Homo sapiens: one gene and its partner. The protein of the gene in region 1 purifies or fractionates together with the protein of each later gene. This does not show direct contact. Each region holds a gene or a part of one and is shown in the gene's direction. Other genes may lie near its edges.

What was found. The genes of interacting proteins can lie anywhere in the genome.
Region 2: the proteins of SZT2 (region 1) and SEC13 purify together in Homo sapiens (affinity purification with western blotting; one study listed by BioGRID and IntAct). This does not show direct contact.

What each region holds. Positions count from the first base shown.
Region 1 is NC_000001.11:43,396,377-43,400,026, forward strand, and holds part of SZT2 (KICSTOR complex protein SZT2), read left to right. Parts: intron 1-3,650.
Region 2 is NC_000003.12:10,310,976-10,314,625, reverse strand, and holds part of SEC13 (protein SEC13 homolog), read left to right. Parts: intron 1-1,895; coding exon 1,896-2,047; intron 2,048-2,527; coding exon 2,528-2,661; coding exon of another isoform or gene 2,662-2,796; exon of another isoform or gene 2,797-3,050; intron 3,051-3,650. UniProt on the Homo sapiens protein: Functions as a component of the nuclear pore complex (NPC) and the COPII coat. At the endoplasmic reticulum, SEC13 is involved in the biogenesis of COPII-coated vesicles.

The sequences.
Region 1 (3,650 bases):
GGTAAAACAAAAAGTGGGTTAGATATTTTCAAGACAACAGATTTTAAGAGTAGGTCAAGATATTATCAAAAAGACAGATTCTGGCTCTATGTGAGGACATTCCCAACTCTACCAACTAAACAGGTATGGGCAAAAAAAACAAAGAAACAACACTGAAGTGAATGGCTGTGCAGGACTTCTGACTCAAAGAAGAGAGGTAAACAGCAACACTTTGTTATTACTAATCTGTGCATTTATACACGTTACTTTTTACAAGGTGCTTTCACACATCATTGGGCTAGCTGGTATTTTTACACAGGAGGAAGCTCACCCAGAGTCTTAGCTGTCAAATCACAACACTTTCTTTCTGTAACACTGTTCTTTCTAAAACAAAGCTAATGGAACATAAAGCAAATCTGTTAGAACCCCCATTTGCACTCCCCCAGGGTTCCAGGAACAATAAAGAAGAAGATACTAGTGAAAATGTGGTAAAAACGATGTTTGTGGAAGCAAAGGAAAAACTCCAAAAATAGAATAGCTTACCTTGTCCATAAATGATTGAAAGATGAAGTGAATAAAGGACAGGAACTCTTCGTCAACAAAAACCATGTTGATAGAAGAGTGAAAAATTAGAAATTATTGGTAACAAATTAAGAATAGCTGGAAACAGAATAAATACAGCTTGTGAGATTAGTTTTCCTTGTTCATACATGTATTCAACAGTTATTATTAGAACACTTAGTATGTCTTGGCACTGTGCTAGGCTCTAGGGTTACAGCAAGAAACAATGTATAGGCCAGGTGTGGTGGCTAACACCTGTAATCCCAGCACTTTGGGAGGCTGAGGCCAGTGGATCACCTGAGGTAGAAGTTCGAGACCAGGCTAACATGGCAAAACCCTGTCTCTACTGAAAATACAAAAATTAACTGGGTGTGGTGGCACGTGCTTATAGTCCCAGCTACTGAGGAGCCTGAGGCAAGAGAATCACTTGAACCAAGAGGCGGAGGTTGCAGTGAGCCAAGATGGCACTGCTGCACTCCAGCCTGGGTGACAGAGCGAGACTCCATTTCAAAAAAAAAAAAAGAAAAGAAACAATATGTAGACATGGCCTCCACCTCGCTGGATCTTCAGACTTATACAGGAAACAAACATTAAAGTATACAAATTCTTTTTTTTTTGAGATGGAGAGATGGATGGAGTCTTGCTCTGTTGCCCAGGCTGGAGTGCAGTGGTGCAATCTTGGCTCACTGCAGCCTCCACCTCCTGGGTTCAAGCGATTCTCCTGCCTCGGTCCCCTAAGTAGCTGGGACTACAGATGTGCTCCACTATGCCCGGCTAATTTTTGTATGTTTTGGTAGAGGTGGGGTTTCGCCACATTGGCCAGGCTGGTCTCGAGCTCCTGGCCTCAGGTCATCCACCCACCCCGGCCTCCCAAAGTGCTGGGATTACAGGTGTGAGCCACTACGCCCGGCCCCTACAAATTCTTAATTATAAACTCTGGCAGGTGTCATGAAGAAAAAATACAGAGTGCTGTGTGAATGCCCAACATAGGACCCTAACTTAGTGCAGACAGTCATGGAAAGGTTCATTTATTAAACCTAGATTTGCCGTGATTTTAGTCCTAGAAGATGAGGTGACCACGTGCCCAACTCTGTCCTTATAGTGCTGACCCACAACCATGTGCTCTTCCCCTTTTAACCCTGGCCTTACGTGGGCCAAAACGCTTTTCCTTGGTTTTTCCTTGCATAGCTGAAACAGGCTGGCATTTGAAAACAAAAAGTATTTAGTACCAAAGAACAAAAGGAAAGTAGTGTTGACACTAGTGTTAAGGTGATCTCATCTTGAGAAAAGTTGTACTAATTATGATTAGTTTTAAATGTCCAGTTTGCCGTGCTTAGAACATATAGCGAGAGGGGAAGAGGTGGTGGTGGGGAGAAAAAACCATAGCGAATTCACTTATTTAGAGAAATGTTATTGAACATCCTATGTGCCAGGCACTGCACTGGGCTCTGGAGACAGAGTGATAAACAAATGACTGCTGAATTAGGATAGCCTTCCTATTCTGATAATGCTCTGAGCCCCAAACCATCCCTTAACAAAAAAATTCTTTTTTAAAACTCCAGTAAGTCTCTTGTACATGCTTTTTTAGATAAGAACTTTGGCAGTATCCAGCATAGTCAACACATAATATCCCACCCACACTAGCTAAGTCAAACCTGAAGGAGAGGTTGCCTGGTTTAGTATCCCACCCTAAAACCAAGGATCAGAGAAAGAAAGGGTGAGTAATTGCTGTGATTTCCTTCTTTGCCAATAAATAGACCCCTTTTCTGTTTTTAGGAGCATGGCGATAAGAGTGTACAATTTGATGGGACTTTTCGATGGGGTGTGGTAGTCAGGAATAACTATCTACTTTTTGTAGCTAACTTAGAAATCATTTTGCAGTAGGTTGGGTGCGGTGGCTCACGCCTGTAATCCCAGCACTTTGGGAGGTGGAGGCGGGCAGATCACAAGGTCAGGAGTTCGAGACCAGCCTGGCCAATATGGTGAACCACCATCTCTATTAAAAATACAAAAAATAGCCAGGCATGGTGGCATGCCCCTGTAGTCCCAGCTACTCAGGAGGCTGAGGTGGGAGAATCGCTTGAACTGAGAAGGCGGAAGTTGCAGTGAGCCGAGATTGCGCCACTACACTCCAGCCTAGGCGACAGAGCGAGACTCCGTCTCAAAAAAAAAAAAGAAAAAAATCATTTTGCAGCGTATTGGTTTCCAATGCTACTTTAATCATCCTTGATACCTTCCTTTTTGTTACTTTCCTCCTATGTCCTGACTTATAATTAATCACCAGTTCTTTTCTGTCCTATCCTAAAGATCCCTTGAAATACAACTAAGTTCACTGTTTAGTTCAGCTGACTTTTTGTTTTCCATAATAAGACTTTCACCGTGAAAGATAGTGGTGGTTTTGCATCCTGGCATTATCTCATCAAGACCCAGTCTCACACAGTTCACAGAATGGCTACTTTGAGTAGCTCTAGTCTAAGCCACTGTCATCTCCCCTAGTTGTTAGTCTGCGGTGGGAGGGTGCTTTCTAAATCACACAGTAGCCAGAGGGAATTTTTTTTTTTTTTTTTTTTTTGAGACGGAGTCTCGCTAGGCTGGAGTGCAGTGGCGTGATCTCGACTCACTGCAAGCTCCGCCTCCCGGGTTCACGCCATTCTCCTGCGTCAGCCTCCTGAGTAGCTGGGACTACAGGCACCCGCCACCACACCCAGCTAATTTTTTGTATTTTTAGTAGAGACGGGGTTTCGCTGTGTTAGCCAGGGTGGTCTCGATCTCCTGACCTCGTGAACCGCCTGCCTTGGCCTCCCAAAGTGCTGGGATTACAGACGTGAGCCATGGTGCCCGGCCACCAGAGGGAATTTTTTTTAATGCAGATATAATGTTACTGTCTTGTGGAATTCCTTTAGTAGCTTAAACTCACTCAAAGGATGAATCCAAAATCCTAGCCAGGACCTGTCTCAACACAGTGTTGGAAAGCAGTGTAACAGAGAGTAGTATCTCCCAAGGTGTAATTTCATTTTATTATTATTTTTATTTATTTTTTGAGACAGAATCTTGCTGTTTTGCCCAGGCTGGAGTGCAGTGGTGTGATCATAGCTCATTGCAGCCTCAAC
Region 2 (3,650 bases), on another chromosome or scaffold:
TCTCCAAGGGTTCTGTGAATAGAGTTCAGGGGTTGATGAATTGGGACAGGGGGAAAAAAATGCATTTTCAGTGACTCTGATATTTAGCATTTCCTTCAATTATGGATGTAGGCCAGAAACTTCAGTAGTATTTGTAGTGCCTGTCACTTTGTCACCAGTAGAATTCACAGATATTGTCATCACACATCACGGTTACTTAGCTACCTCAAAATACCACTTATGCTCATCACAACTTTGAAATTACAGTGGTTATTAGACCTGCCGCTAGGGTTTGTTGCTTGAAGTGTTAACAAAGAAGTACATGCATCACTATCTCATAAATTGCTTTATAATATTTTGATAACAGGCTGGGCAAGGTGGCTCACGCCTGTAATCCTTAACACTTTGGGAGGCTGAGGTGGGAGGATGGCCTGAGCCTAGGAGTTTGAGGCTGCAGTGAGCCACGATGGTGCCACTGCACTGCAGCCTGGATGACAGGGTGAAACCCTTCTCAAAAAAAAAAAGTTGATTACTGTATAATTTATAATTGAATTTTCTTTATAAGCCTAGTTCTGTGTGTTTTGTACATTAGTCTGATGAGGGTCCATAACCTTCCCCAGAATGCACAGAAAAGATTAAGAGCCATGACAGGTGGGTGCTCAGCATGTGTTTGTTCACTGAATTAAAAAGCATAAACTAAGTCAGTGTCCATTTGGGGAAATGGGCCTAGAAGCTCCCCTCTGTCTGAGTGTCAAATGATCAAGTGACTGAGGAGCCAAATCAAGCTTCTCTATGCAGGAGCCCCCCAGGCAGGCAGAGAGCTGCTGCAGTGCAGCGTGTTGGCCAAGGCAGTTATGTTTGCTGTGACTCTGTCCTTTCTGCTGTTTTTCTTACATTCAAAGGATGTGAAATATTGGAGGGATAAAAAAAATTCCCACCCCATTCTTTTTTCCCCTTAGTAAAAACTGTGCTAGTTGTTGGAAGATTGAGTCTACTCAGTTTCATTAGCAGCAGCTTTGTAGGGACTGGGAATGTCCTGTTGTCCCAGCCAGAGGGAGGAGGAGACTTGAGTGTGTGCAGCCCACGGTGAAGGAGTAAACCAGGAGCAGCACTAATAGCTAATGGGTATTGAGTGGCTTTTTTCTTTCCTTCTACCAAGCATTGTTCCAAACTTTATGAAAGAATTCTTATTGATGTCTCCATTTTCAGGTAAAGAGACAAAGATATCCTTGCCTAAAGTCAAGAGCTAGTGAATGGGAGAATGGGTCTGGTCTCCTAACCACTAACTCTACCATGCTACTCTACCTCTTGAGTGCTAAGGTGCAAAACCTTCCCTGGGCCAGAGAAATGGTCACCGTACAAAGCCTGGCACAGAGCATGTGCTCAGATAGCACCTGTTATCAGGTGAATGGATAAAGATCAGAAGAGAAGGGAAAGACATGCCTTTCGAACAAATTAAAAGAGTAGTGGAAAACATCAAAATGAAACCAATAATGCCTCCTCAGGAAGCTGACCGTCGGGAAGGATGAATAGCAATTCAGTCTACAAATATTTCCTGAACACTTCTGGCTGGAAACCTTGGACCAATTAATGACTATGCTGTAGACAGCACATACAGACAGTGCTGGCTGCAGTCTGGGCAAGTGAGGCTCCTGCCTGGCCAGGACAGGAAGGCTGACCCAGAGGCTCAACTCTCTCTCAAAGGCTCTGTGACCTTAGGTTGCTTAACCTCTTAGGACCTCAGGCTCCTCACTGTCCACTGAGCACCCCTTTTGCAATGGCATTGTATAGTTCTCCCTTTGAAGTTCTTAAGCAATTCTGCCCTGATATATCGTCTCAGGGAGCCATTTAGTTCTGTCCAAAGTAGTGCCTGCAGAGGCACTGTGGGTTCCTCTGGCCTATCTCTCCCTTTGTAGTCATGAGGGTCCTGTGTGGCAAGTGGCCTGGGCTCACCCCATGTACGGCAACATCCTGGCATCGTGCTCCTATGACCGGAAAGTCATTATCTGGAGAGAGGAAAACGGCACCTGGGAGAAGAGCCACGAGCATGCGGGACACGACTCCTCAGGTATGCTGAGCTTGGCAGCAGAGCGGGCAAGGGGACCACTGGGTAAAAAAGGACTCTGTCCCGGCTGGAGCCCTGGCTCCCTGCCCCTCGTGGTGCCTCTTGTCTGTCTCTTGAGCTTTGGTTGGCTTTTCTGCTACTCTGTCCTCAGCTGAGTAAGGCCCTAAGACCTAAAGCCAGTCCAAAGCAAATAAGAAAAGACAGGTGAGTTTCTCTTCAGGATTATTCATTGCAAGGACTACCCTTCATTCTCAGATTGTTTTCCTACCCACTTTTTTGTTAGATAGACTGTAGGTTATGAAATCGTGGTATTAGTAGGTGATGGGGTTTTTTTGTGTCCTCAGTTGACCAAGTTACAGCTTCCCCCGGTGACTCCTACAGTTGTTTGTTGTAGACATTTAGTAAAACAGTAAATCTGTGGAAGGCGGGACCTGGGGCCGCGGTCTCCCTGCTTTGCTCACTGCACTCTCCCTCTTCCCGCAGTGAACTCGGTGTGCTGGGCCCCCCATGACTACGGCCTGATCCTGGCCTGTGGGAGCTCGGATGGGGCCATCTCCCTGCTGACTTACACCGGGGAAGGCCAATGGGAAGTAAAGAAGATCAACAACGCTCACACCGTGAGTCCATCCCCTGCCTTTCGTGCAGTGAGAGCGCCTGCCTTGCCCCGTGTCTGCTGCAGCCTCCCTAGAGGGTGGCACGGGAGGGTCCCCGCTGGACAGTGGGCCGGGGAGTGGTCAGCTGACCAGACATGATTGCTCTAGAGCAGCTTTGAGCCTCTCTGCCCTGAAGCCAGACCAGGCAGGGCTTGGCACTGCTTCCTTGTTGTGTGCTCCCAAGCAGGGGAGGGCTGGTGCAGCAGCAGCCTGCTCACTGCCACCTTAGCTATGGTTGCCTCCAGGTGACATGCCCTGCAGTAGTCATTGGGACCCTGTAGAATGGAGTGGTGTTATTAAAACTTTTAAAAAGTATGTGAGCTATGCATACATTTAAGAAAGATTAATATAAACAAGGTCATTCTTTACCCAACTTTTGGTGAATCAGCGAGTGACAGTGGTCGTGATGTTGGTGGTTCAATCAAGGAATAAATGTTTGCAAAGCGAACATCAATGTCCTACCTCCTACCACCACACAGTTCAAAAACCAACAATAACCAATGTGGGGGGCTCATATGACTAATGCCACATCGTTTGCTGTCATGCATCTGTATGATTATTGGATATTTTATGAGTTTAATTCTACAATAATTTGTATCTATTCTTTTTCTAATCTACTCATTCCAGTTCAGGGTCACAGGTGGTTGGAGCCTGTCCTGGCAGCTTAGGGCATGAGGCAGAAGCCAGCCCTGGACAGGATACCATTCCACCAGAGGAGCACTCACACACACCCCCACACTCACACTGGGACAATGCAGACGTACCATTGAAGTGAACATGCACATCTTTATTGTGTGAAAGGAAACCAGAGTACCAGGAGAGAGCCCACGCAGACACAGGGAGAACACACAGACTCCACACAGGCAGGGGCCCCCGCTGGGAGTTGTTTTTTTTTTTTTAATCTTGTCAGCATTATAATGAAATGAAATTGAGGATCAGTTGTACATAGAATG